Linked DNA regions of Homo sapiens. The protein of the gene in region 2 interacts with the protein of the main gene of each other region in a pairwise test. Each region holds a gene or a part of one and is shown on either strand. Other genes may lie near its edges. The genes, in order: MAL2, MIEF1, PRR4 and ATP5PF.

Region 1 (7,268 bases), on a different chromosome or scaffold from region 2:
TAGACTAAACTTAAATATAAGATGTAACTCAGAGGAATTATGCCAGAAAAACAAATGTTAATGAAAGGATGATTGTGAGGGAGGGACTTTAGGGGAGGCAGGTTCAGTCATGCAGATAAATCTATGAAAGGGACTTCAGGTTATTTTCAACTGAGAGCTTTGACTTTGGACTAGTAACATGTATATGTTCTGATGTATAGAGTTTATTGCCTGGAAAATGTTGACTGTGAAGGGACATTGCTTATTTGCAGTGTGCAAGAGGGAGCTGTCCATGGACATAGTTGTCCCCTAAATGGGTTTTAAAACTGTAGGTATTTTTTTTCCTTTGCCTCTGGATTAAAAATCTTCATCCACATTAAAAGAATCTTTAGGCCGGGTGCAGTGGCTCATGCCTGTAATCCTAGCACTTTGGGAGGCTGAAGCAGGTGGATCACCTGAGGTCAGGAGTTCAAGACCAGCCTGACCAACATGGTGAAACCCCCATCTCTACTAAAAATACAAAATTAGCCAGGTGTGGTGGCACATGACTGTAATCCCAGCTACTTGGGAGGCCGTGGCAGGAGAATTGCTTGAACCTGGGAGGCAGAGTTGCAGTGAGCCAAGATCGCACCATCACCCTCCAGCCTGGGAAATAAGAGCGAAACTACATCCCCAAAATAATAAATGAATAAATAAATAACCTTTAAAGTTTCATAAGGGAAAATAAACCAATGCCCCTGCCAGAGATTATTATCAACAATCATTTGCTCCGACTGGCAGTCCTTTAAAAAAAAATACGAAGAACTGAAATATGGAAAACTTTAAACCAAGTAGCTGAAAAGATTCACCTTGAGCTCCAAAGGAAAAAGTCATAGAGAAGAGATTTGTTTTGTAGAGCCTGATAGAAATGTTGTACGTGGTGGTAGGAGCTGTGGACATGGTGTATTTGCAGTGATATGGCTGAATAGAAATGACCCTGTAATGACAAAGGACAGGAACCAGGTTGGCATACCCAGTATCATGCACATGCAGTACTTAACAAATGCTACTTGTTTGTTCTATAGTACAAACTGAGCAGTATGTGAAAATAGTCTGGAGACATTGGCTGGAGTGGAGAAGGGCAGCTTGGGAGTAGATGCCCTCTTAAATCTTGCCCAACATGTAAACTGCCATAATTCTTCTCCAGGTTTCTGCACTTTAACTTGAATTTCCTAAGTGTTCTATTTTATATAAGAGTACCATATCCTTTTATAGACAACATATATAACAATCTCAACTTCTGTATAATAGCTATGAGAAGGAGGAAGGTAAAAAGAAAGGAAAGAGGCAGTGATTTATACGGGTCTGGCCAATATCAGGGCATTGGCACGCAGGAACAGCTTTAAACTAAAAGTGATAACTAGTTACCTGCAAACATGAAAAGGGAATTTTCAAAATCGAGAGGAATTATTATAAAGAAGAATAAAAAGAACCAGAACATATTTCTCCTCTGTAATATGAGCTTTCCATTTTAGGGTCGGTGTCAGCTATTTAAGCAGCTGAATTGGAGGTTTAGGTCACATGGGGAGGAAGAAAGTATAACTCTCTATAGCACTCTCAGACATATTTTTAAAGCCTTCAAATGTAAAGCTAAAAAGTAGAACTTCTTTTGCAATGAGTATTAACGTATTTTGGTCATAAGCCTCTTATGTGTATGTCATTTCTCATTACATCCCAGAATTTGTTCTGTTTTCCTAACTAACTAAATAAATAAACACCTTGCTGCCTTGCATCTCTAATGCAGGTCTATGCCAGGGCCAGTCCAGAAGCAGTTTGGACAGAAGTCAGCATGGTTAGAGGACAGATGGGGACTGATGAGGGGAGCAGGAGGCACTGGAAGAAGGCACAAGATTTACCCTGGTCAAAAGTTCCAGTGGCAGTTACAATAGAAATAGGTCATGTGGGCAAATTTGGGGCCGAAAAAAGATTTAAAATTGGGTGTCATGAATTCAACTGGCAAGAGGTACAAAGTTTCCCATAACTTTCCATCTCAGCCTCCTGAGATCTGGTACTAGGTGGTGGGTGTCACCAATAATAACTTGAGAATTGAGAAGTACATATTCTCGCTTCACTCGTTTTCATGCCTATTTTTGGACATCCACCATGAACCAGGGAGTGAGCTGGGCTCCAGACCGGAGTGTGTTCCTAGCATCCCAAGCTGCACTCCTAGAGCATTCTCTTTTGGAACCATTCATTACACATGCCGGTTGGTTTCCATTCATTTCAAGGAGGATGGATTGAGGACCTTCTGTAGAAAGCACCACCCTGGGTAATGAGCATACGGAGATGTTGAAGGCAATGTCACCGACTCTGACGTCACAGTCTAGTGGGTGAAATGGGCATGTAGATCCATGATTTTGATCCAGTTGTAATTGCTGTGGAGAATACACGCGTCAGTAACCGTGGAAGCACCGAGGGATGGCACCTGGCCAGGGAAGTCTTTCTGGAAAACATGGTAACTGGAGTTTAGTTATGCAGCAGAATTTTTACTGGCAGCATGCTAGGCAGAAACATGGTCAAGTGTGATCATTTCTCTATGCTCAGGGGATGAGGGGTAGAGGCTGGAATGCAAAGAGAGGGTGGTAGGAAAAGAAGCATTACAGGGAAGATGATGAGCTTGGGGAGGGGGGCAGCAGTATGCCTTGTAGTGGTACCAGTGATCTACAGTCGCATTGTGAATGAATCCATACTTGTGTGGGCTGCTTTGTAAATACATCTACCAGTTATATTGTATGTGTTGGCTAAGTATGTTTCTAGTTTAAGGAAATCTTTCAAAATGCGAATTGTATGTAAAATATAGCTAATTGTAGATAATCTTTTTTTTTCTAGCTGATAAATTTCTGAATATACTGAACACTTCTATAACCATGATGTTTCCTGTGCAGCACCCCATAAGTAAACATCCATTAAAATAGAAGGGGTTACAAGTAGATAAAGTGTTCTGAACTTCTGGGTGGGGGGGCCACATACCCCTTTGTGATTCTGATGAAAGGTGTGGACTGTGTCCTCAGAAAAATGCATATGTACTTGTCCACCCAATTTTATATGATTTTAGGAAATCATATGGAATATGGGTAGAAACCCTGCTTTAGAATGAACACTAAACCATGAGAGGGGCAGAATAGCAGAATGTTAAAATCATAAGTTCTGGAAGCCAATTGCCAAGTTCAAATTTCAGGTCTAACACTTATTAACTATATAACTAGGAACAAGTTATGAATGGATTTGTACCTCAATTAACTTACCTATAAAGTAGGAATAATAATGTTGTCTCTCAAGGTCTGTGAGGATTAAATTGGCACAAATAAAACCCTTATAACGGTGCTTATAACATAAGAGCTCAGTAAATGTTAAGTACTATTTCTGCTATCACCATTAGCTTCAACTTCTTACTCTAACTCTACAAGCCAGACTGGAAGACAAATATTTTTTTGCTTTTCCTCTATGTTTGCTGGGTGTTCATTCTCACTGCAGTAGAATAATGAATTATCCAATATATAGATAATAGAATTAGAAGGAGGGAGCTTAATACGGAAAGTTCTAAATAGTGTTTTCCCTTATGGGTAGTTTAGCCAGCCTTTATCCTTTCAAATTCACTTACCTTTTCCTGTTCTCATTCCAAACATTAATTGAAAATAGGTCACAGTAGAAATTAGCCGGTTTACTTTGTGGGTATACTAAGATGGAGGTGTCAAATTGGTTTGAAAAAATTTTTAGCTGTCAGAGGGTATGTTTAAAAGCAGGTAATTAGGAAATAAGTGACATTTGAAAAGAAAAAGGGCATTTGCAAAAGGAACCCTTTGGGAACATAAGACCGTCCAAACAGGAGATGAGTTAAGAATCTGTAATTCATGCACCCAGAATTGCAAGAGTTGCTACTTGCTCAAGAGCATGTTTTCCCGTGGGACTATGTATTTTTCCCATTCCACAGTTTCTAGTGAAAACATGTCTTCACATCAAACCCTGAGGATTCAGTTTAGTGTGATTTGTGGATAAATACTTCCGTGGTTTTCTTATGGTAGGGTTTCAGCCAAGTCATACCTTTCTGGTCTGCAGAGACCAAGCAAACATAACAAACATGTGTTAAACCAGAAAGAAGATCAGTTGTTTTAGGAATGTGTAGCAATTTAATAACTGCAACTCAGAATATATTTGAGTACTTCTGGTATGTACCCAGTACACCTAAAGTTGGGTTAAGAAGATAAAAGGTGACTGAGTCACCGGGAGATGCTGATACCTACTCCTAGGAGGTTTTTACCTTTGTATTGCCTGGAAGCAAAGGTAGTCTTTTTGTTAGAGCTTGAGGTTTGACGTCATAAGCACTGACTTAGTTTCTTAAAGAAATTTCAAATTGAGGTGCCTTTGGCTATTTTATACATAATTATTGGATTTTTTAGAACACTAGAAAGCAGTGGAAGGCAGTGGCAGGGAAGGGGTCAGAATATGGATTCAGATCCAAGACGATGAGAATAACGTGGGCGAAACATATAATAGTTCCGAATACCTTTCTTCACAGTGTGTACTCTGCAGTTGCTACTGTATTTATCATCTGTTCTCTGTCAGATTTAACCATTTTTGTGTTCTGCTTTTTACTTCTAAAAATATGGCCACCTCCAGAGTCGTCTCTACTGAACAGGAATGCTGATAATTACACCGTTTTGCAAACACTCTAAGCTCACTAATGCCCGGAATTAGAGGAAGTGAATATACTGAGCATTGGTCATCTCAATTTTTTAAGTTCAGTTTTTTAACTTAAAAAAACTGGAGCCAAGTTTAAGTTGGAGCCAAGTTGGGAAGCTCAAGAAGAAAAGTAGCTTTTGTCAAAAGGAAATCACAAAGTAGGGAATAATAACTGTGTCAAGGCCAGAGTGATCCATACACCAGTATGACAGTCTCAAAATGAGGATGGTGGCCCTCCAAAGTGGGCTCAATTATGTTCTCTGGCCCATCCTCTCTCTTCCAAAGCGAGCCTGGATTTCACAGAATCTCAGCTCTAGGGATGTATCATATGTATTTACTTGAGTGAGAGAGAGGGGGCATTCCTACACTCCTTCCCTCTCCCCTTTCCATGCAGCACATACCCCACAAGTGAGGAGGTGAATCTGACTCCTGTTCATGCAGCATTTAGTTTCCCTTCCAAGCCTTTGAGGTGTTTGAAGGGCTGTAATTTTGAGTACGATAAGAACGGTTAGTCTATACTATTTTACAGTATAGCCTCTGCTGTCAAAGCCTTGGTCTGTCTTGAAAGCTTACTCTGAAGCCTGCCTCCCCTGCCTACCTTTCCAGATTCTTCCCATTATATTTCTTCTCTCCTCTCCCCTCCCAGCCTCTCAGAACACACTGTGTTGAGCTCTTTTTATAGCACCCACCGCAATCTGCTCCTGAATCAGTTTAATAGTGTCTATTTCTTCCTTATTTCAAGCTCCTGGAGATGGAACCTTGCCTTTTTTGTTTTTTCTTGAGTGTTCTTCTATAGTACCTAGCAGTAGGTTCGGGGCTGGCCTGTTTGAGGTCCAGTCTGGGTTTAGTAAATGCTGTGTTGAATTCCAAAGGATCATATAGCCTCCTCTTTAGAGGTGTGAATGTATCATCATCCCTAACTCATTATGTTTATCTATTTGGCTCTGCCTGTCCCTAACAAACAGTGGCCAATTGCTTTTTATTATCCTTTATATTTGCACATAGGTTCTCAGGAAATAACTCAGAAGAGATACTTAATGTATATTTCTTAAACTGTATTTAAAGTTATGTAGGTTATTCTTTGTGGGAGAGTAAGAAAAGACTACCAGAAAGAAGAAAGTGGAAAAAAAGGAAAGATTGATCCACTGAAGACATACTTATATCGCCTTCAGATATTTATTTAATAGTATGTAAAGGTAAATAATATTAGGAACAAGTTTTTTCTTTTATAGGCACTGATAAGGTGGTGGTTAAATGTTTAAGATGCACTGATATTCATTAGATTTATTTCATAACACTTTCTGGATCAATTGTTAATTTTTTATTTGACTTTAGGAGTTGAGGTATACACCACAACTATACATTTTTTTAGACTGGTGATTTGATTATCATTGATCAAGTGATCATTTATGCTTTCAAAAATGTTTCTTCAAAGTAGTAACAAATTATATGATTGGGCCTTTTCTTGAAGCTTGAATTAAAACTTGTGTTTTTAACTTTCAGTGACTTGTGGAGTAATTTGGATATCTAGATACTGAAATGCAATGTACAGATGAGTATTGATTTTTAATATTTGGAGCTCCAACTGTTCTCACATGAGCACTAGCTTGTTTACTAAGCAAATAATTTAAGAGCGTGCTCTATCACTCTCCCTGGGTGTGTGTGTGTGTGTGTGTGTGTGTGTGTGTGTGAGAGAGAGAGACAGAGAGAGAGAGAGAGAGATTGATTCTCACTTGCTTGAGGTGTCTTCAGGGCAGGTATGTAGCCTAAGGTTTTGTGCTGCCAAATCTAGCATAGTACCTGACTGATGGTTAGGAAAGGATTACTGTGTAGATTAATAAATGGCTTGGGATGCAGAGACATATAAAGCAGTATGCTGCCAAGAAGGCCTGGTAGTGCAGATGGAGAGCCAAAGGGATTTAATTACAGTGTATCTCACTGATGTAACAAAGCCCAGTAGGGAGGTTGCCCAGAGGAGGGAGGCATAACTGAGCAGGGGTGGATCTCAGGAAAAATGTTGTAAATGATGTGCTCAAGATTAGATGTGAGTGGGAGAATCTCAAGTACACATAGGGAGGGAATGACATTCACGGCATGCAAGTAACAGGCCACTCTGATGTGAAAGATCTTTGTCTTGGAACTGTGGATTTTTTTTCTCCCCCTAATACAAAATGTGAGGGGCATAGTGGCAAGAGACAAGGATGAAAAAGACATGTCAGATCACAAATGGCTTGGAATGCCAGGCATGGTAGTATGGAGGAGACCAATGGTGATAGATGCATAAAACTCATCTTCACACCATTTCTCCTGCGGTGTTCTCTCAAGCCTAGAGGCCCATTCCAGAAATCTGGGTATTTTCCTTATCTGTCCTTTTTCTGTTGTGTCCCACATCTGATCAGTTACCAACTATTATCATGTCTACTTCTAAATTTCACTCTAATCCATTCCTTTCTCTCTGTCCTCAGTGTTCTGATTCTTACACTCTGTTGGTCTAACAGTCTCCTGTGTTACCCAATGTTTGTGAAATCTCTGTGTTGATAGAGCTGAGAAACACAGAGATGTGCTGCCTC
Region 2 (7,133 bases):
TCCTCCCTTCTCAGCCTCCTGAGTAGCTGGGACGCCAGGCATGTACCAATGTGCTCAGCTAATTTTTTATTTATTTATTTTTTTTGTAGAGACGGTCTTGCTATGTTGCCCAGGCTGCTTTCAAACTCTTAGCCTCAAGCGATCCTCCCACCCTTGCCTCCCAAAGCTTTGGGATTATAGGTTCAAACAGCTCTGCCTGTCCAGAAACTGCACTTTGTAGTCTGGAAACTTAAGTCTGATGTGGCCAGCATGGTACCCCTGTAAGGCAAATAGCCAGAGTTGAGGCTGGGCCTGGTCTGGAAGGACGTTGACTCCAAGTTGAGATTGTAATGTATATCTTCTTATGTGGGGACCATCACAGCTCTGTAAACAGAGGAATGACATAGCCACATTTGTATCGTAGAGGGAGCATACCAGTGGCAGTGTGAAGAATAAATTGATGAGAGATACTAGAGGCAGTGGATGTAGCCAGATCAGATTGAGGGACCGAGGGGTGGGGGTGGCCACATATAAACACAGTGTGTACAGCAGTGGGACTTGGTGATCAGTTGGCTGAGGCAGGAGGAGGAGAGAGAAAGATGAAGAGTAACTGGGTGTAAGGCCTGCCAGCTGGGTGGAGGGTGCTGCTTTTAACTGGGGGAGGGAAAGTAGGAAGAGAGCCTTATGTAATGACTTTTGGTTCTTCTCAGCCACTTAGGATTGGCATATCTGCCTTTGGCAGTACAGGGCCAGGGGTGGGGTGATGCCCATGGGAGCCTGTCTGCACAGGGAGGGTTGGCTAGCGGATCTAGGAGGGAATTAGGGCGTTCCTTGAAATCTTTGTGTTCCTAATATATTTTGGCTGTGAGTTGGGCTACACGCTGCTATCACTACCCCCTCAAAAAAACCAAGAAACAAAACGCCGTAGAGTTAATACTTCATTCCCACAACATATACTCCCTATGCATCAAACACTGCACACCCTGGGGATGCAGCAGTGAATGAGCCCAAATGTCCCCCAGAAGCATATGGTCTGGGGGTTAATGGAGTGGAGATGGGAACAAGGTGTGGAGCAAGTACCTAGGACCCCTGTAGATTAGTTCTCCGCACCGCGTGATCTCAGGGTTCAAATCTTGGTCACATACTTTACTGACACAGTGACCTTGGGTCAGTTACAGAAACTACTCAGTTTCTTCATCCTTTAAATTTGGGATAATATTACTGATCTCATGGGATTGTTGTTGTGAGGATTGAGGGAATTAATAATAAGTGTAAAATTGCCAGCACATAATACACACTCAATATCTGCTACCTAGTCTCGTACATACTCAAGCAAGATAGGTTTATAAAAAGGCCTATGGCTTTTTCAATTAAAATAAGTTGGAACTTTCACACTTCTGTGCTGTCATCCTAGGAAGCCGCAAGGCCTCCATTATTCATCATCCTTAACTATATTAGGGTGATGAGCATTTCTGTTCCCATTTTTGTATCTAGCGAGACAGGTTAAATAACTTGCCTGAAATATTGGCAGAGCTGAAATTCTCCATCCCTAGTTCTGCCCACCAGGTCTGTGTTCCTTCTTTGTTTTTTATTTTAACCATCTTAACCATTTTAAAGTGTACAGTTCAGTAGTAGTAAGTATATTCACATTGTTGGGTAACAGAGCCCCAGAACCCTTTTCATCTGGCACATCTGAAACTCTGTACCCATTAAGCAATGGGGTTCCTTCATGACAGTCCCGATTGGAGGTGGAGTTCTTACCTGCTAGTAGGCTGTAAGCTTATGCAGCAGAACCTGAGTGGAGAGCGTGTCATGGAGAAGCAGTTTAAACTGGAACAAGTTGAATTAACTTTTCAAGTAAGGTCCGTGTCTGTCTGTTGAGCTTGTGGATGCCGTCTTCTGTTCCAGGTCACCAGGTCTGTGATGTCAGTCCGTCCTTGGATGGTGGGCGGGGGGTGCCTATTGCACTACAGTAGGAAAAGCCTTTTTTTCTTGAGATGGAGTCTTGCTCTGTCACCCAGGCTGGAGTGCAGTGGGTGCAATCTTGGCTCACTGCAACCTCTGCCTCCCGACTTCAAGCGATTCTCCTGCCTCGGCCTCCCGAGTAGCTGGGACTACAGGCGCCTGCCACCACACCTGGCTAATTTTTTGTGTTTTTAGTAGAGACAGAGGTTCACCGTGTTAGCCAGGATGGTCTCGATCTCCTGACCTCGTGATCTGCCCACCTTGGCCTCCCAAAGTGTTGGGATTACAGGCGTGAGCCACCGTACCCGGCCGAAAAGGCTTAACAAGCTGGCCCAACTTAATAGTTTTGATCTCAGCTGTTGGCTCACGCCTGTAATCCCAGCACTTTGAGAGGCCAGGGTGGGCAGATCACCTGAAGTCAGGAGTTCGAGACCAGCCTGGCCAACATGGTGAAACCCTGTCTCTACTGAAAATACAAAAAATTAGCAGGGTGTGGTGGCTCATGCCTGTAATCCCAGCTACTAGGGAGGCTGAAGCAGGAGAATCACTTGAACCTGGGAGGTGGAGGTTGCAGTGAGCCGGGATTGCCCCACTATACTCCAGCCTGGGTGACAGAGTGATACTCAGTCTCAAAAAAAAAGAAAAAATAGTTTTGATCTCAAGTCCAAGATGGCATCACTGCGAATTTTCAAGGCCGTTTTAGAGCAGTCTCAAAAGGTGCACTGTCACTCAGAGGACAGTCTGGGTTGCTGACTGACTTCTGGAAGCTGACCTTTGTCCTGTGGATGGAAATCTTAAAAGACTAGAGGAGAACTCATTTGTGGAGCACTTTTACAGTTTATAGACCATCCACTGCAATACAGTTTATACCGTTCACATACAGGATTGCAGTGAATGGTTTTTCCTCACTACAACCCTGTGATTTGGTCCCACGCGGGGACCATTATCCCCTTTTCGTAGCTGAGGTGTTAAGTAACTCATTTGAGGTCACCCAGCTAATAAGTCAGGGCTCAAGGCAAGTTCTGTATCTCAGGATTTCTGACTCTAAAACCCACGCTCTGTTCTGTCATCTGTAGCACCACCTTGCTCTCACCAGTCATCAGAAGGGCACCAAGGACTAAAATGGTCCAGGGAGGCTGCTTCTGCCCTGAGTGAGGAGGTGCCCTTCTGGCCCTGCTGCATCACACTCAAGGATCATTTAGAGGGCACATGTGTCCAGTGGCTCTCCCTATTGTAAATATTTCAGTAAAGAGTTAAAACAAGAGACATTGTTATGTGTGGGGAAATGTATAGTGTTCTGCTTTTCTCCTGATTGGGTTATCTTGCCTCTGCTAAGTTTGGTTTGTCCCGTCTCTATCTCAGTGGCCACTGGAGAGAGGGTGTCTGCTGTTCTTCCCTGATTCCACCTGTAAATACAAACGTTATCTCTTCTCCCTGGCTTTGCTCTGTGCATTTGAGGTGGGAATGTACTCGGTTTGGCGAAATAGTCTTTCATGTCCCTAAACCTGAAGCCTCTATTGACTGTAAATGGTAGAGAAAAGGAAAGTACCCCCAAGGTGTGAACTCTAGTTAGGGAAAAAAATATTTTTGGGCTTGACAGTGACTCTTAGTTAACTCAATTACTGGAATAATAGAGTCAGAAATATTTCTTTGTTTTTCAGGGAGGTAGAGGCAGGAGCGTAAGATGTGGAAGCTAGAAATATCCACTTGTAACACGGTATTAGAAGGAATGTTATTTTACATGGAAGATAATCCTCAGTGATCCTTTTTTTTTTTTCTTCAAGACGGAGTCTTGCTCTGTCACCCAGGCTGGAGTGCAATGGTGATTCTCCTGCCTTGGCCTCCCGAGTAGCTGGGATTACAGGCATGCACCATCATGCCTGGCTAATTTTTTGTATTTTTAGTAGAGATGGGGTTTCACTATGTTGGCCAGGCTGGTCTTGAACTTCCGACCTCGTGATCCACCCACCTTGGCCTCCCAAAGTGCTGGGATTACAGGTGTGAGCCACCGCGCCCGGCTGATCCTGTCTCTTGATGTCCTCCCATTCTGGGACGCTAAATGGTATCCGACTTTGTTTTCCCTTATGTCATTCCTGGTGTGAAGGACACGGGATATTATAGAGGAGAGTGGCAGCATGCTGAGTGGTATTCCGATCTGAATCACACTGTCATCCTTTATCCGGCTCAGGCCCAGGGTTCTAACTCCACAGGAATGGGCTTATCTGGGGACTGCTGCTGCTGCAGTCAGGAAGACTCCACTGTAGTCGGGAGCAGCACTGGCCTGAGCACTGCACTGGAGGCCAGCCTCTTCGCTGTGGTGCCCAAGTACTTCTTTCAGGTGAACACATTTTTAGTTCCTCTTCCAGGTGTAATCGAGCAGATGGGTGTTTTGTTTTCCAGTTAGCAGTCGAGTCTGCAGTGTCCTTTGTGTTTTTTATCTCCCGGTATACCAGTCTCACCTAAGCTTTTATAGTCCCCGCTGCGCACTTCTCTCAAGAAACAAAGCATTTGTCAAGTAGGAGGGTCCATGGAGGGACCTTTCTCACATATGGACGTGTAGTTTCAGTTCCGTGTGCAGGATGTTTGGTACATGTTGTTTTGTGTTTTGTTTGCAGAAAGTAGATAGAATAAGGGCCGATTTGATTTGGGTAAGGGTGAGCATGGTACAGTAGAAAAAGCGTCATACAAGGAGTGGGGAGTCCTGAGTTCTGGAGATGACTGTGTCGTTTTGTTTTCGTTTTTGAGACGGAGTTTAGCTCTTGTTACCCAGGCTAGAGTGCAATCGTGTGATCTCGGCTCACTGCAACCTCCGCCTTCCGGGTTCAAGGGATTCTCCTGTCTCAGCCTCCTGAGAAGCTGGGATTACAGGCATGCGCTGTCACATCTGGCTAATTTTATATTTTTAGTAGTGACGGGGTTTCTCCATGTTGGCCAGGCTTGTCTTGAACTCCTGATCTCAGGTGATCCGCCTGCCTCGGCCTCCCAAAGTGCTGGGATTACAGGCGTGAGTCACCGTGCCCGGCCCATTTTGTTTTTTTATTTTTATTTTTAAGAGATGGGGTCTCACTCTGTCACTGAGGCTAGAGTGCAGTGGCGTGATCATAGCTCACTGTAGCCTCAAACTCCTGGGCTCAAGCATTCCTCCTGCCTCAGCCTCCTAAGTAGATAGGACTACAGGCATGTGCCACCATGCTCAATTTATTTTTATCTTTTACTTTTGGAGATGGGGGTCTTGCCATGTTGCTCAGGTTGGTCTTGAACTTCTGGCCACAAGCGATCTTCCCACCTCAGCCTCCCGGGTAGCTAGGATTATAGGCATGAGCCACTGCGCCTGTACCATTTCTTTTCTCTGAGACCTGACACATCACCTCCCTATGTTGAGAACCTCTGTGTGAGGTGATGTGATGGCATTAGATGAGCTCCAAGGTCCCGCTCAGATCTAACCTTCCACAAAGTAGTGGCCAAAGGACGAAGAAATGACCTGCATTATAACCCCTGTGATGGGGTAGAGAGACCTGCTTTATAACCTCTGTGAAGGGGTAGAGAGACCTGCATTATAACCCCTGTGAAGGGGTAGAGACCTGCATTATAACCCCTGTGAAGGGGTAGAGACCTGCTTTATAACCCCTGTGAAGGGGTAGAGACCTGCATTATAACCCCTGTGAAGGGGTAGAGACCTGCATTATAACATTGTGAAGGGGTAGAGACCTGCATTTTAACATTGTAAAGGGGCAGAGAGAGGGCTGTTTTGCATGGTGGGGTACTTCATTGTAATACAAAAAAGGACTGACACTGAGCTTAATGCTTTCTTAATCTCACTAGCTTGGGGAAAGTTTTCCTACAATACCCAAGATCAGCCCCTCCTCCTTGCATCCTGATCTATCATGGGACATTGTAGCTCCCTCCAGACCCTAAAGCATGCAGTGCTGGAGGCAAGAAGATTTGGGTTGCTGGAACTCACAGAGTACCCTGTACTTGTTGGGGTTTGGCTTGTTAGGGGAGGGAGGTTCTTGGGGTCCCAGTACTTATGGCCGTGTTCTGTCTTCATTCTCAGATGAGCAATGGCAGGCGCTGGTGAGCGCAAAGGCAAGAAGGATGACAATGGCATTGGCACGGCCATTGACTTTGTGCTCTCCAATGCCCGGCTGGTGCTGGGGGTGGGTGGAGCGGCCATGCTGGGCATCGCCACGCTGGCAGTTAAGCGGGTAAGTGCATGCAGCCAGGGCTGGGGGTGGAATGTAGTGGTATGGTCATAAGATGTAATGTTTTATAGAAAGAAAATGTCGAAGCGTTCTAGGAGGAAATGATCGCAATGATAAGTGAAAAAAACAGGTTTCAAAAGTATGTATAGAGTGATCGTCATTACATGCATCTAGAAAGAAACATACCAGATATTACAAACAGTTTTCTCTGGGTCATGACGTGGATTATCTATGTCTTATATCATGTAGTCTTCCCTGAGATTTTCTGCGTGGAGCAAAGTATTCTATAATCTAAAATAAAAACAAAATTACTAAAAGAACTTACTAGGACAGAGCTTCTGGGGAGGAAGTAAATTGGAAGGAAATAGGGAAAGAGGGCAGGTTTATGTCCTGTGTCCTCTCTGCTATTTCAGATGTACGATCGGGCGATCAGTGCCCCTACCAGCCCCACCCGCCTGAGCCATTCGGGGAAAAGGAGCTGGGAAGAACCCAACTGGATGGGCTCCCCACGACTGCTGAACAGGGACATGAAGACGGGCCTGAGCCGGTCCTTGCAGACCCTTCCCACAGACTCCTCCACCTTCGACACAGGTGAGAAGGGCTGCTGCCCCTCCTGGGACCTCTCTGGACTTTCAGTACCACTCCTGCACTCAGCAGATGTTTCCTGAGCACATCTGTGCCAGGCACTGTGCCAGCACTTGCCCTCCATGCCAGGCCCTTCTTTCTGGGGCTGAGGCAGCTGTGGACTGAGCAGGCATGGGCAGAGCTCACGTGCCTCTCTCTCTTGCCTTGGCAGATACATTCTGCCCGCCCCGGCCCAAGCCAGTGGCCAGGAAGGGCCAGGTAGACTTGAAGAAGTCACGACTCCGCATGTCCCTGCAGGAGAAACTTCTTACTTACTACCGGAACCGGGCAGCCATCCCTGCTGGAGAGCAGGCTCGGGCCAAGCAAGCTGCTGTGGACATATGTGCCGAGCTCCGGAGCTTC
Region 3 (7,940 bases), on a different chromosome or scaffold from region 2:
TAGCACCTTACATTGCAGGGGCAGAGGGTGCTCAAGGTGGTCTCTTACTATGTAAGGCAATGCAGTTTGGAAATCCCAACTGCTCTCCAGACTGGTTTTTGTGCCAGTGAGAACAGTGGGGCAAAGATTGTTGACATTTTTTATGGCAATGTGGACCACTGGGGAACTACAGCTTACTTTTTCCTGTAGAATGGAGTTACTGATGACCCTGAGCCAACCTTGACTGAAGAGAGAGTATGTCAGAGGCAGGATGCTATATTGAGTTTCTGTACTTCACAGAGGTGTTTCTGTTCCCCTGGTGGTCTCCAGCATACTTTTTAAATCACACTGGCTGACATAAAATTGTTTGTTTTCTTGATTTCTTTTTGTGGGGAAATGAGTGCCAGGGAACTCTAGTCAGCCATCTTGCTGATGTTCTAAATTCTATTTTTAAAAGATCACTCTGGCTGTTGTAAGGAGAACTGCTTGGGATGTGGTGAGGGGCAGGAATGTCACCAAGATCAGCTGGAGACTGTTGAAAGTCCTCCAGGAGGGAGAATCATGGCTTGACTCAGGACCTTCTGATAGAGATTATGAAACTGATCATATATGGGATATCTTTTGAAGGTAGAACCAATTGGATTTGCTAAGGGCAGTACACGGAGGAGACTAAACAATCAAGAGTGACACTTATGTTTTTGAATGGTTGAGTGAAACAAATGTCATGAACTGAGAAAAGATTGTGAGGTGTTATCAGCTAAATTGTGTTCCCTCCAAACTCTCATGTTGAATCCCTTACCCCCGATACCACTGAATGTGACTCTATTTGCAGCATGGCCTTTAAAGAGGTGATTAGGTTAAAATGAAGCTGATAGGGTTGGTGCTAATCCCATCTGACACCTGTCCTCATAAGAAAAGAACATTAGCACAGACCACAGAGGGGTACCAGGGATGCACGTCTACAGATAAAACCCCATGTGAAGATACAGCAAGAACCGGCCATCTAGAAGTGAAGGAGACAGGGCCTCAGAAGACACCAAACCTGTTGACACCTTAATCTTGTACTTCAAGCTCCAGAACTATGAGAAAGTAAATTTCTGTTGTTTAAGCCACTTGTGGGGCATTTTTTTAGGGTAGCCATAACAAATTAGTATGAAGGAGAGCAGGTTTTAGGAAGTAGAAATCAAGAATTATATTAGGGGTATGTTAAGTTTTCATCTGTTGTAAAAGGCAAGTGGATTGCTGAGAGTGTCCACTCACCTACAAGTGCCTAAGCTCCTGCTGCAGTCCTGCTTCTCGATTTGACCCCACCCTCACTCACTGACAGTGTCTGTTTCAGCTCCTCCGTCACCTCTGTTGTGGTTGTGTGTGGTGAGATCATAGCTGATGTTTATTATTTCCTGATACATTAATCTCTTTCTCTCATTGCTTACACTGGAGAATGTCAGGGTAAGGGTCTGAGCTGAGTGATATTTGCAGGCATCACCTGTTGTCTTCCTGCACTCACCAGCCAAGGAGAAGCCTGCCTTCCACCAGGACTGCAGTTTCCTCAGCCACCCACACAGTGAATCATGTCTGCATGGCACGCCCCTCTGCTCCTTCTCGCTGACCTTCCTTTCCTACCTGATGGTCTACCATAAGCCACCTAGGCAGAACTACTTATCTCCACTTCCCATGTTAAACAGTGTCTGGTGAAATCAGAGGCAGCAATCCTAGTAACACAGCTGGGTCTGTAGGCCCAAACAACTACTCTCTCTCACCCATAAAACCCTAAAGCACAGCTAGAACTCTTCTGCTTCCCACATAGAGAAGAATTGCTAACTCATAATATATTTCACCTTCAAAATATGTCCATAATTATGCCAGAGAAAATATTTATTTTTTGGTCACTTTGCCAAAGTAAAGTTATCCATAACAAACACCATTGATTAGAAAATCTTCCTGTAATATTACCTCCAACCCTTCAGAATTGCCAGACCAGACCTTCATCTGCACAGCACAGGATCCACTTATCCACAATGGTCAAGAGGCCTGTCTTTAAGATTTCCAGTCACATTCCCCCGACCCTGTCATACTTCCAACCAAGCTATCCTCAAATTATCACCAGCCCTGTACAAAAATGTAACAATAATACGAGACCTATACAATGCCTGTAATGAAAAGTGGCAGCTGGTGATACTGATTGATCTAGGGGTTCCATGAAAATATAAGCAGAAAACTACTAGATAGGACAGAAAAATCAGCAGGTGAAGATTAAGCTACCAACTCAGGACCCTACCAAACTTTTCAGAAACACAAAACCTTGGTGCCAAATTTTAAAAACAAAAAAGAAGAAAGCAAGCAAAGAGAAGTACAGAACCTTGTTTAGAAAATCAAATAAAGATTTCTCCCAGAACGCATGAAGAAAGCAGTAAGATATAAAACATAGACATAGGGAGGATTGATTCACAATATAACATATCAACAAGTAAGGTTCAGCACAAGAGTGAAGAAGAATGAGTATAAGAATATTGCAGAGAAAATAATCTTTGGTAAAGGCAATCTGAGAAGCAAATAGAATGGAAACTAATTAAAAAATAGAAAATCAATGTAATACTTGAGGCTTTCAACAGGCTATCATACTATCTAATTAGATTGTATTATTGTGTCCACTCAATAACCAGTGTGATTAAAATATTTGGTACAAGAAGTAAGACCTAAACTGAATCATATAGAACATTCTAGAAAAGAGAAAGATCATGGAAGAAGTCTTAGGGACATAAAATAGCATGGCTTGTTCAAGGAACTGTGTATTCACACTGTTCTGATGCAGAAATCTAATGGTGCTTTCTGTGGCCAATTTTGCCTTACTAACCTCCAGGGTATTAATAAAGATAGAATGTTTTAATACCTGTGTTCTACAACAATAAAGTATCTCTGGTTAATGCTAGATTAGGAGAATCTTAATCTCTTTGGGCCAGAGTAGCCTGAGGGTAAAACTTCTGTCATCCACGTGTGCCCAAGTGTGTGTTGTCCTCACACAACTCAACATTAAACAGAAATGATCTCTATATTATTATGAAATTAAGCTACATATCATCCATATAGGTATATATGCTATAAAAATGGAATTTATGCTACACTAATAGCTAGAGATATTAATCATTTTCACTTCTGGCTATAAGATCACTGCTGACAAACATATACAAACGTAAGCACGTGTGCACACAGACAACCAATGAAGGGGAAAGACTAACTGTCTAACCCAATTGAAAATCAAATGATGACCAAACTTCAATTGTAGTATTTGTGCTGATTGCTTGGATACTGTTTCTTCAGAAACTATGCTCAAGTCACAGTTTGTACCTAACCACATCCTACCACCACATCCTGCTGGGCTAAAATCCCAAAAAGTAATAAGAGACGCATTCAACTTTATGAGAGGAAAGCAAAACCTAATCTTTCAGGTGGTGAGGTCCACCCAGTATGGAGCTCAAAGGTGCCATTGTTCTGCTCATGTTTATAAAGGGAGCTGCCATGTTTCTCTCAACGCAGAGTTGGGAGCAACTCCAGAGCCTCCTTCAAGATGCTGCTGGTCCTGCTCTCAGTGGTCCTTCTGGCTCTGAGCTCAGCTCAGAGCACAGATAATGGTAAAAAAATTATTTTTTTAAAAAAGGAGATGGGGAGTGGGATGAGGGGCCATGACTCTTCTAGGGCCTCAGGGGTTCACCCTACACCACTGCAGCGGAAGAGCAGGAGGGGAGGAAGGAGGTTGAGAAGAAGGGTAGGGCTTTGGAGCTCTCATTCCAAGGATGACATCTGTTGTGCCCTCATTCCATGCCAAGGCCTTATACTTTATTTGATATACACTTGGAACCCAATAGAGAATTTCAATTAGAGGAATGACAAAGTAAGATTTGTATTTTTAGAAAGACCTGGCTGTGCTGTGAAGGATGCAGTGGAGAATGCAAGACTGATCCAGGGAAGTCCAGCTATGAAGATGCTACAGTAATCTCAGTGGACAGCGATGATGGTGTCCTTGCTGTACAGGGGATGCAGAATCAATGAAAGAGATAAACAAACATCAGAGTACTGTCAGACATAGAGGACTGGATAATACATTTGTGTCTTTCTACATAGTGGTATAGAAATATCAGGTCCCCAAATTCCCATTTTTCTTCCAATCACATTTAAAATTTCAATATGTTGCAGGCAGCATGTGTAAGATTATATCCAAATATTTACTCCTGGTTGCTCCTCTTGGGCAAGCTTGTGAATATGATCAAAATATTTAAAGAAGGAAGAAGGTAAAGATCTAAAATATGACATGAAAATACCCAGAGAAGTGTGCCTAAATTAGCATTAGGGTTTGAGGGATCCTAAGGATGACAAAAAGGGACTCTTCTATTGAATTCGTGGTTGATGCTCAGCGATAGTAACAATCCTGCCTCCCCTAACATCTTCCTCCCCTTCCAGCAGCTTCACAGAACATGGTTGATGAGGTAACTTAGGGGATGCACAGGGTGTGGCCAGAAGACCCCTTTCCCTATAGACCACTATGAGCCCTGAAAGATTTATGAGGTAATGTTCACTTCATCCTGTGCTTCTTTTCCTAGATGTGAACTATGAAGACTTTACTTTCACCATACCAGGTAAATCCCAATGATCCTCAATCCAATTCTTTTCTTTCTTTTTCCACTAGAATTTCTTTTTAGTTTCCTTCAGTGTCTTCTTCTCATCATTTTTTTGGGAGGAGGTGGTAAGAGGGGTCAGGCATTGATTAATATTAGTGCCCCTAAATATATAGGCAATTCTTACCCATCTTTGATTCTGGGGACCATGAGCCAGGCCACCAACTTGAATACAGAGATGCCTGGCTTTGAGGACAATAGGAGTGGGCAGGCTTTTTTCCCAGGCTGGAATGACTGCTGAGAGATGATGAACAAATGAGAAGTGTTCTCATTCTGACTCCTCCATCCTTAACTGCTTCTTTCTTCCCCCAGTGTTCCCCCGCACGGTTATGTGGCTTCAGGGAGTAACACAAAACAAAACAAAAAAATCACTGCATGAATGTCTTTTCTCTGTGTTGACCCACTCAGCTGTGTCACTACAGATGATAAATAGTTGCCACAGCTGTTTAGTGATCATGTGCAGGCTTTCACATTGTCTTTCTCTTCTGTCTCTTAGTATTTCTCTACTTGGTTCCAGGAGCCTGGGAAATCAGCTCTAGTTTCCACATAGGGCTTAGGTGCCCAGAGATGGAGTCACAGTTTGTAAGTCATTACAGCAACCAAAAAATAAAAATAAAAAATAACCAGTAACATAACTGAAAGCTATAATGCTTTTGCTTTTTTTTTTTTTTCTGTCCTTGGAGACATCCTCTGGCAACTCTAAGATATGCAAGAACCCCTCTTTTCATTTAAGGAAACATACTTGTCACAGGAGCAAATAAATGAGACTTTCCATATCACTCTTACATGGATTAAGTTGAGAGCTGCATAAAAAGAAAAAAAAAACAGTGGGCACAAAAGAAGTTGACAGTCAAGCAGCAGGTTTGGGGAGAACAGGGCTGTGTGGTAAGGTGAGAGAAGTATAAAGAGAGGAGAGTTTTTCTTCACTGAGCTCATGCATTCTTGTCCATTAATTACTCACACAGATGTAGAGGACTCAAGTCAGAGACCAGATCAGGGACCCCAGAGACCTCCTCCTGAAGGACTCCTACCTAGACCCCCTGGTGATAGTGGTAACCAAGATGATGGTCCTCAGCAGAGACCACCAAAACCAGGAGGCCATCACCGCCATCCTCCCCCACCTCCTTTTCAAAATCAGCAACGACCACCCCGACGAGGACACCGTCAACTCTCTCTACCCCGATTTCCTTCTGTCAGCCTGCAGGAAGCATCATCATTCTTCCAGAGGGACAGACCAGCAAGACATCCCCAGGAGCAACCACTCTGGTAATCTAGAATTCAGTGGCAGGTATGATTCCAGTTCATTCTCCATTAAATGCCCAAACTGCTACCATTCCCAAACTTTATCGTGTTCACAAATCAATTGGAAATATGTTGAAATTACATAATCCTGGACCCCATTTCTAAAGATTTGTATTCAGATATTCTTGGATAAGGTTGCAAGTCCTTGTATTTTTAACAAGTGGTTCAAAGAATTCTTATCTTTTGAAATACTGACCTCCCCAACTTTTTTCTTAAGATGACTTGTCTCATTAAAATGAGTTGGTAATGAGGAAGTGGGGTGTGCTCTCCCTTTGGTGCTCTGCCTCCTGTCTTTGAGTCTGCCTTCTCAAACCCAAGGACTCTCCATCTCAGGTTTCTCTCAGGTTTCCGCCAGAGGACTCTTTGCTCAGTCCTGCCTCACACTAGCCTCTCAGGTCCAGTGTCCCTGCTAAATGATACTTGAACTTGATGCTCTTATATCTTATTTAATTTTTAAAATACTTATTTTGAAATTAGTACATGCTCAAGGAAAAAAAAATCTAACTGAACAGAATGGTATGAAGCTAAATCTTAAAGTGACGCCTTATCCTACTTACCCACACCCTTCACCAAAAGTCACCACCCTTAATTTTTTGAACATCCTCCTGGAAATATTTATATGTATATAAGCATACGTCATTATTTTTCCCACAAATGACATATTATTTTATATGCAGATCTGTATTTGCTTATTTCAAATAATACATGTCTTAGACAACTTTATCATTTCACGGAGACCTATAGATCTTCTTGGTGATTTATTTGTACATTTTTCTTTTGTTGTTACAATTGTATACTATTCTCTTGTGTGACTGTACCATGATTTCCTCAGTCAACCACTGTTAATTGATATGTAGGCTTGTATTAGTTTTTCACTACTACAGGTTCAAGTTGCAGTCATTTTCATAAATATAACCTTGAATGTTTTGAACAGTAACCAAAACATAAACACCATAAAAAAATCTGTTTTCTTAATCTTGAAAGCAATAATTTACTTCAGTAATATCATCAAGGAATTAGATAAGTTTTGCCATGTTGTATGTTGTGTATAAATTTCCTTGGTTTTTTTTTTTGTTTCAGAAAATAAATAAGAAGATAACTTCCTTCAGAAAGCCATGACATTGAAATAATGTGGTCATAACTCTTTCTTCAGTATACCAATAAAATATTAATAGCATGCAATTTCTGATTGTTGCTTCTCTTTGTGGGTGTTTCTGAGTCTAGAATTTGAGGGCCATTAATACAATCTAAGAATATCTGGGACTCTTGCTCATTGATGCTTCCAGCAGGCTTCCCTCCTCCTTTATCTTAATAAAGCCAGCTGCCAAGGAGAAAGAGTTCCATTGTTCCCCTTCTGTCCTAGATTGCATAGCACAAATGCAAATTCTTAAAATTATTTTTACATCTTTCATTGATATTCTTGTAACTCTAGGAAAACAAGGAATATATAACAAATGAGAGGGAGTTGCAAGTGCTGGGGAATTCTTAAAATTTCCAAAACTATTAATCCTGGTTTCTAGGGGCATAAATGTAGTTCTAGATCTCTTCTCTATAAAACTCACTATGCTCTTTTCTCCTCTTTTTTCATTGCTCAGCTCTCTTCCTCCCTAAGTCGTTCACCATTCTTTTTAAAAACTTGAGTGGATTTCATAAAGGGTGCAGCATAATGTACTTTAAAGGGCAAGAAATTTGAGTAAAACTCTGTTCTGATTGTAAAAATTCCAGCAATATCAGTATTATTGTCAGATAATATAGACTACCAAATTTAACTCAAGTTGCTGAGGCAAAGTTGAATAGAAAATAACCCTAAGAAGCAAAAGAATTTGATATGTAACTGTCTCCAGCTACCTCTCATTATCACCTCCAATGTCGCTGAATACAGAAAATTTTAATATCTAATCTTTATCATTAAAAAGCACATAATTCTTTTTTAGATTTTTTAAGTACAGGAAACAACAAGTTTCTGAATTCATTCTGAGTTTCATTAAA
Region 4 (7,268 bases), on a different chromosome or scaffold from region 2:
TCTTCAGGCCTGGGGTTTTTCGATGACTTCAAATTTGGGATCTAAGAAGAGGGGGAAAAAAGGGTCAAGCTTAGCCAAATTGCAATAAAATGGATTATGTAGAATGCTCAAGATTTAACTCATCAATTTTCTGATTTTTTTAGTAAACACTGTTTGTAAACATTTACATAGAAATATAGCTAAACATTTATGCAACACTTTCTATGAGCCATGCATTCCATTAATTGACTTTGCATATATTATGTCATTTAACTACATATGCAGAAGATACTATAATTCTCCCCAAATGTCAGATGAGGAGACATGCACCAGTTAATTACTCAAGATTACACAGCTGAAAGTGATTATAAGGATTCAAGATTGGGCAGTTCGATTTCAGATCCCCACCATTTAATCACTATGTTATGTGATCTCCTATACTGCTCTTATTCTAACAGCAAACATTTAGCCGGCAGCTTCTCAGGCACACGTCATGGTCCTAATAAATTCACATGTCAACACTGTCATTCAGTTCTCTAAAAATCCAGGTAAGTGTAAATATTCTTCACTTATCCCCCACAAGAATGAATCTGTGATTTATAAGACGTACCTTCAAATTTGAAGGTGGGAAATGTATTCATGTCTGCATTACCAAACATTTGCTTGAGCTTAAAAAGCTCCCTCTCCAGCTCTTGCTGATACTCTGAACTAGCATCAACAGGTCCTCCAGATGTCCTGTTAAGTAAATGAGCAAACAAAAATTAATTTTGTGTACTAGCTTACAAAAACAAAATTACTTTTCACCACCACATTCCAACAGATCTTTTTTTTTTTTTCTTTTTTGAGACGGAGTCTTGCTTGGTCGCCAGGCTGGAGTGCGGTAGCATGATCTTGGCTCTCTGCAACCTCCGACTCCCTGGTTCAAGCGATTCTCCTGTCTCAGCCTCCCAAGTAACTGGGATTACAGGCACACGCCACCATGCCCAGCTAATTTTTGTATTTTTAGTAGAGAGGGGGTTTCACCATGTTAACCAGGATGGTCTCGATCTCCTGACCTCATGATCCGCCCGCCTCGGCCTCCCATAAGTGCTCGGATTACAGGCGTGAGCCACCACACCCGGCCAATAGACCTTTTTAAAGCATTCATGTAGTCAAAGAAAAGACTTCAGAAAGAAAATAAGTATTTCTACTTCAATTTCAATTCAAACTATTTTATTACGATGAGGTTTCACATAAATGAGGTATCCTCAAACCAATCTCTAACATTCAAGGTTTCTCAGAATCACGGACACTCACTAAGTCAGAATTTCTCAGGGTCTAAGTTGCAAAAGGTGTATCGTTAAGTCTACAGGCTCTGGAGTCAAAGACTGGTCCTGTTTGAGTGTAAGTTCAACTATTCAGCAACTGCGTAAACCTGAGTAAGGCACAGAGCACTCTAAATTTTAGTTTCCACAACTAAATATGAAGGTTCTACCAAACGAGGGTGTAAATGCACACGTACCTCTAAGCACAGTGCCTGGCACACAGTGAGTACTCAATTATTATCTACTAATATCATCTGCTTTAAGTCAGCCATCACTAAATGGCTTTTAAAGACCTTAGACTTTTAAGTTTCTACCATAGGGGTCCTATTAAAGAAGCAAATTATTTCCTACCCTCAGAGATTTTGCAATTTCGAAGAAAAAAATTACATGTTTACAAACATTTATGCTGTAAAGGAGTGATGTGATGAGCTTCAAAGACATGATTTAACAAAAAGCTATTCAAGTTGAGGAAGAGATTACTTTTGCTAAGCTAATCAGGGAAAATTTCATTTTAAAAAGGTGGCATTTGAGAAACATCAGGCATCTGGGGCCAGGGTTTATTTTGAGACCTTCTAAGATGGAAAAAGCAAAGACATAGAGGTGGTAAGGGATTGGCTGTATGTGGGGAATGCTAAGGAGTCTAGATGGAAAAACCAGCAGACCCCAGATCATGGGAGGCCCGGAATGTTAAGCCTGGGAGTTTGTATTTTATTTGCCAAGCAATAAAATGACAAAATTAGACTTGTGCATTTTGGGAAAATAAATATAGCATTATGGACCAGCAGCAGGGCCAACTGGGTCTCATTAATTCTTTGAAGAAATTCTTCTGTTTTTGTCATAAATACTACTGCCTACCTAGCAATGAACAATATTCTAAATGTAAAAAAATGTACACATGAAAATTCCTTCAAGGGTAATAACATTTTTACACATGCCTATGATCAAAGTATACAGTCTTATTTAAGTTAAAGAACATGCACAAAAAATACATAGGTGGCTCCAATTTAAGAACTTGTTATCAATATTTCTTGTTAGAGACCCAATTTTCTTTTAGATTAGCACTGTCCAATAGACCTTTTTGTGATGTTAGAAACGCTCTCTGTCTGTGCTGTCCAGTGTGGCAGCCACTAGCCATATCTGGCTATTGAGCACTAGAAATATAGCTAACATGAATGAGAAAATGAGAAACTGAATTTATAAATACACTTAATTGTAATTAGAATTTGAATAGTCTCATGGATAACGGCAACCAAAATGGACACTGCGGTTCTAAATAGATCCTTCAACTAGATACTCTAATACTGGTTACAGATGGATGATGGCTATTTTAACTTTAATATGCACTCTTGTGATAAAAAGAGGCCAGAAATCATCTACCTCCTCAACTGAATGTAAGTCTTGCTGCTTATCTTGCTTATTACTATATTCCTAGGCTCTCACATGATGCCTAGGACAAAGCAGTCACTCAGAAGATACTTGTTCATTTCACTAGCAAATACTAGGCATGCTAATGTATTGAATAATTTAATTTTTATAATATCCTATGAAATGGGTAAGTACTACCATCATCCTCCTTTTACATATGAGAAAACTGTCCTACAGAAGTTAAACCTGCCCAAGGTCATAGAGCTAATTAGTGGCAGTGCTGGATGCCAGCCCAGGGTCTACCCTCAGAACTCTCCATGTGTTTGTTTGCACAAACGAATGAATGACCCACAAACAAGACTCCTTAGATATAGGGTACACCTAAGAATTCACTTCTTACTAGATAGGCTTTTAAAGACAGTTAAAATGATGCAAACAGCATCAATACTCTAATATAACACCACATTTGGACAGAAGACACTCAAAATTCCCTGACGAGTCCTGCACATCTGGTTACTTAACAGTATGATTTTTGGCAAATTCTAACTTTCAGCCTTGGTTTTCTCATATATAAAATTGGGGTAACATCTATAGGGTTGTTGTCAGAGTTTCATTACCATGTCTACAAAGCACAGAGTAACTTACTACATTTTAATCCCTTCACTATTTCTCCTCCTCAGTTTTGGCAATGGTAACACCTTTGTTAGTTACCTCGCCTCAAAAGTCAGTTTTCTTTTATTGTTCCCTCTTCTTCCTCTCCAGCAGCTCACCAAAACCAGGCATCAGTGTTTCAATGTCTTGACTCTGTCACTTTTACATTACCACTGCTATAAAGTCAAGGTTCTCATCAACTAATGCTTAGGTTACATTTTGCTAACATGTCTGTCTTTGCTCTCTTCTCATTTCAATCCTTCCAATACCCTGGTTAAAATTATCCTCCTAATTCAGAGTAATCTTCCATCCCCACAGTCATGTTCAAAAAGCTGTAATTTCTCACAAATGCCTACCACATATCTTACTTGCTCAGTCTACAATCAAGGCCTTCCATAATCCCTCATTCTAACCCCATACCATCCTTATACTCTTCATATACCCTATACTCCAGGGAAATAGAATTATACCATTCACCAAATATATTTTGTGCTTTCTAGCACAAACTAAGGCATTTTCATGCCTTAGTTCACACCATTCTTTCCTCCTAAAAGATACTCTCCTCTTACCCTCATTTATCTGTCCAACCTTCATACACTGATCTTTAAAACCTAGAGTAAACCCCTGGGTGTACAGGTCTACTGAAGGCCTCCTGTGGGTTTGAGAACTGTTTCATGCTATAAGGAAAATGATGTGAGTAAATTCTTCACGTTTTTTTCTTTAAACTGGGAAGATGATCCACAGTTGTCCATGAGATTCTCAAGAGGGATGAGTACCCAAACACTGCCTTCCAAGAAGCCTCTAAAATGCCTCTAGCTGGAAAGGAGTATTCTTTCCTATGAACTCCCCAAGCACCCAGCGTTTCCCTACCTTAGCACCTAACTCATTTTACCTTATATTGTATTTATTTGCTTAGAAGCTTTCTACTCCTATCGGACTTTAAGAATATTGTAAAAATGCCCTGTGGCCCATCACGGTTAATAGCCAAGTGCTTTACACACAGTAGACAACTATATGAAAGAAAATGGAACTATGAATTGGTGCGCCTCACTGTTCCTAAGATTTGGGTTTGGACCTGATGACAGCTAAGGTGGTCATTCCTTTCCAAAACTATGGTTCTACAATTGTTTTTCTTGGACTTACATTATGTCATTTCAGAGTCTTTTGTCCTTTAATATACATTCTCAGAGATCTGTAACTATGGAAATAGCCTTTTAAAAAAAAGAGCTGTGTTTATACATTTCCCCCAAATTACAATGTCACAGAAAGGCCACTAAATTGAGGCTAAAATATACTTTGATAATATATTTTTCCCCAATTAGTTTTATGATCTTCGGCTAATCAATGTCTAAGGGAGTTACTTTTTTCAAACTTAGCTGCTAAATGATTTCCAAGACCCTATGTATTTCTATAAATTGATGTGGTTTATAATACATGACATGACAGTAAGAATGTATTTTAAACAGCAATAAATTTAGTAGGATTTTCCCTTGTAACTCATATAAAGATACAGTTTCTGACTTAAAAAAATCAAGATCCTTATCTTCTTTTTTGAGGGCACCTAATGAACCTCTATGTCAGAGATGAGCTCAGTGAAGGTCTAATACTTTCAAATACCAAGTCATTTTTATTACCACCTTGAAACTTACATACTTTGAATATTTATATTTACACTGTAGTTATTTATTCACTTACTGTCGCTTAGATTTGTATTCTCTAATCTTGTCCACAAAGAGTTTCTGTATAGGATCAAGTTCCTTATTAAATGCCACTGCTGTAACACCAATGTTCCTCCGCAAATGGACTGAGACGGCTGACCGAATGACAGAGGAGAACCTGAAGAGCCTCTGAAGAATCATGCTGATTCTGTTACAGAAAACAAGCAGCAGAAACGTTAATATACTTATTATAAATCACCTCTAAATATATCATGAGAATCAAATTCTACTAATTGCTACAGAATTACATCATATCAGATCTCAGTCTATACCTGACCACAGTTCCCTTCTCCTCCTTATTCCCCATTGCAAGTTTTTTAGGTCTTAACCAAAAGGCTCTGGGATAATGGAACAGTTAGAAACTCAGGCCTGAAGCTTCATCAGGGTTAGAGCACAAAATGTGAGGTGAGGTATTTCTTCCCCCTTGAACTTAGTCATGGATCAGAGAAAACAGTAGAGGTAGACTGTTGCAACACTGTCCGCTCCTAACAGGAAAAGTACACTGGCCCCCAAACTAATGTACAAGGTTTCCCATACCTCAGCCGGGCATGACAACCTGAAAATGTGTACTTCACAGGCCCACAGAGGGAGAAACTGCTCTGCCTGTTACAAATGGATTCCAGCCATTTAAGAATACTGTAACAACTAAATCAAAGTCCAGAAGAACCAGCAAAGAAAAACAGCAGCCAGTCCAAATGAGCTGTGCATGACAGTGGGGAGGATCCGGCAGTCCAACTTTATCAGTGAAATAAATTGGTGAAGGAGATGGAAGTCTGAATTTTAAAAATAAGGACTTATGGCCAGGTGCAGTGGTTCACGCCTGTAATCCCAGCACTTTGGGAGGCTGAGGCTGGTGGATCACCTGAGGTTGGGAATTTGAGACCAGCCTGACCAACAAAAAGAAACCCTGTCTCTATTAAAAATACAAAAATTAGCTGGGCGTGGTGGCGCATGCCTGTAATCCCAGCTACTCAGGAGGCTGAGGCAGGAGAATTGCTTGAACCCAGGAGGCAGAGGATGCAGTGAGCCGAGATTGTGCCATTGCACTCCAGCCTGGGCAACAAGAGCAAGACTCCGTCTCACAAAAAAAAAAAAAAAAAAAAAAAAAAAAAAAAAAAAAAAGACTTAAAGACTTTCAAATCCCTAGACTTCCTTAAGCTAAAATATATTACTTTCTAACTAAAACATTTCAGTAGAGGACAATTCCTGTTGAGATTTACTTTAGTGATTTAAAGATCAAATGCAAAAAATAATCCAAATTACAACAAATAGGTACAAACAGGAATTCTAGAAGAAAAGGAATAAAGAGGGCCAGGCACGGTGGCTCATGTGTGTAATCCCAGCACTTCAGCCCGAGGCAGGTGGATCACTTGAGGTCAGAGGTTCGAGACCAGCCTGCCCAAAATGGTGAAACCCTGTCTCCACTAAACATACAAAAATAAGTCAGGCGTGCTAGCGCGTGCCTGTAATCCCAGTTATTTGGGAGGCTGAGGCAGGAGAATCACTTGAACTCAGGAGGCGGAGGCTGCAGTGAGCCCAGATCACACCACTGCACTCCAGCCTGGATGCAGGGCAAGACTCTGTCTCAAAAAGAAAAAAAAGGAAATGATTAAAAGAGACCATAAATAATTAGTAGAATACATTTTTCTCAGATTAAGGCCGAGTCTATAAACTGACAGGGCTTGCCAAACCCCATATTGGAACGGTGACAAAAGGCTCACAATGCACCACAGCCTGGTACAATTTCTCAATCTTTTTTTTTTTCAGACAGGGTCTCACTCTGTTGCCCAGAATGAACACGGCTCACTACAGCCTCAGCCTCCTGGACTCATGCAATCCTCCCACCTTAGCCTCCCAAGTAGATGGGAGCACAGTTGTGTGCCATCACACCAGGCTAATTTTTACTTTTTTTTTTTTTTTGTAGAGACGAGGTCTTGCCATATTGCCCTGGCTGGTAAAATTTCTGAATCTTCAAGTGAAAATCTGATATGCTAACATGTTTCCCATGCCCTCCCCAAATTTCCTAATAGCAATACTGTCATCATCACATTGACACCGGACTTCTACTAAGTTATAATAGGACTAGTGGAAGTATACAAACTATGTTATTGGTCTAAAGTAATATAGAAATTAGATATAAGTATTTAGAGGCCAGGCGAGGTGGCTCATGCCTGTAATCCCAGCACTTTGGGAGGCCGAGGAGGGAGGATTGTTTGAACTCAGGAGTTCAAGACCAGCCTGGGAAACATGG

The links.
Region 1: the proteins of MIEF1 (region 2) and MAL2 interact in binary tests that used the Homo sapiens proteins (3 or more experiments, as listed by UniProt).
Region 3: the proteins of MIEF1 (region 2) and PRR4 interact in binary tests that used the Homo sapiens proteins (3 or more experiments, as listed by UniProt).
Region 4: the proteins of MIEF1 (region 2) and ATP5PF interact in binary tests that used the Homo sapiens proteins (3 or more experiments, as listed by UniProt).

Annotation. Positions count from the first base shown.
Region 1 is NC_000008.11:119,213,167-119,220,434, forward strand, and holds part of MAL2 (protein MAL2), read left to right. Parts: intron 1-1,456; exon of another isoform or gene 1,457-2,461; intron 2,462-7,268. UniProt on the Homo sapiens protein: Member of the machinery of polarized transport. Required for the indirect transcytotic route at the step of the egress of the transcytosing cargo from perinuclear endosomes in order for it to travel to the apical surface via a raft-dependent pathway.
Region 2 is NC_000022.11:39,505,290-39,512,422, forward strand, and holds part of MIEF1 (mitochondrial dynamics protein MIEF1), read left to right. Parts: intron 1-4,132; exon of another isoform or gene 4,133-4,282; intron 4,283-5,998; 5' UTR 5,999-6,005; coding exon 6,006-6,149; intron 6,150-6,559; coding exon 6,560-6,737; intron 6,738-6,942; coding exon 6,943-7,133. UniProt on the Homo sapiens protein: Mitochondrial outer membrane protein which regulates mitochondrial fission/fusion dynamics.
Region 3 is NC_000012.12:10,845,042-10,852,981, reverse strand, and holds PRR4 (proline-rich protein 4 isoform 2 precursor), read left to right. Parts: upstream 1-3,506; 5' UTR 3,507-3,544; coding exon 3,545-3,608; intron 3,609-4,574; coding exon 4,575-4,610; intron 4,611-5,614; coding exon 5,615-5,919; coding exon of another isoform or gene 5,920-5,937; intron 5,938-7,031; coding exon of another isoform or gene 7,032-7,038; 3' UTR 7,039-7,133; downstream 7,134-7,940.
Region 4 is NC_000021.9:25,724,637-25,731,904, forward strand, and holds part of ATP5PF (ATP synthase peripheral stalk subunit F6, mitochondrial isoform a precursor), read right to left. Parts: intron 5,166-7,268; coding exon of another isoform or gene 5,159-5,165; coding exon 4,995-5,158; intron 715-4,994; coding exon 590-714; intron 42-589; coding exon 4-41; 3' UTR 1-3. UniProt on the Homo sapiens protein: Subunit F6, of the mitochondrial membrane ATP synthase complex (F(1)F(0) ATP synthase or Complex V) that produces ATP from ADP in the presence of a proton gradient across the membrane which is generated by electron transport complexes of the respiratory chain.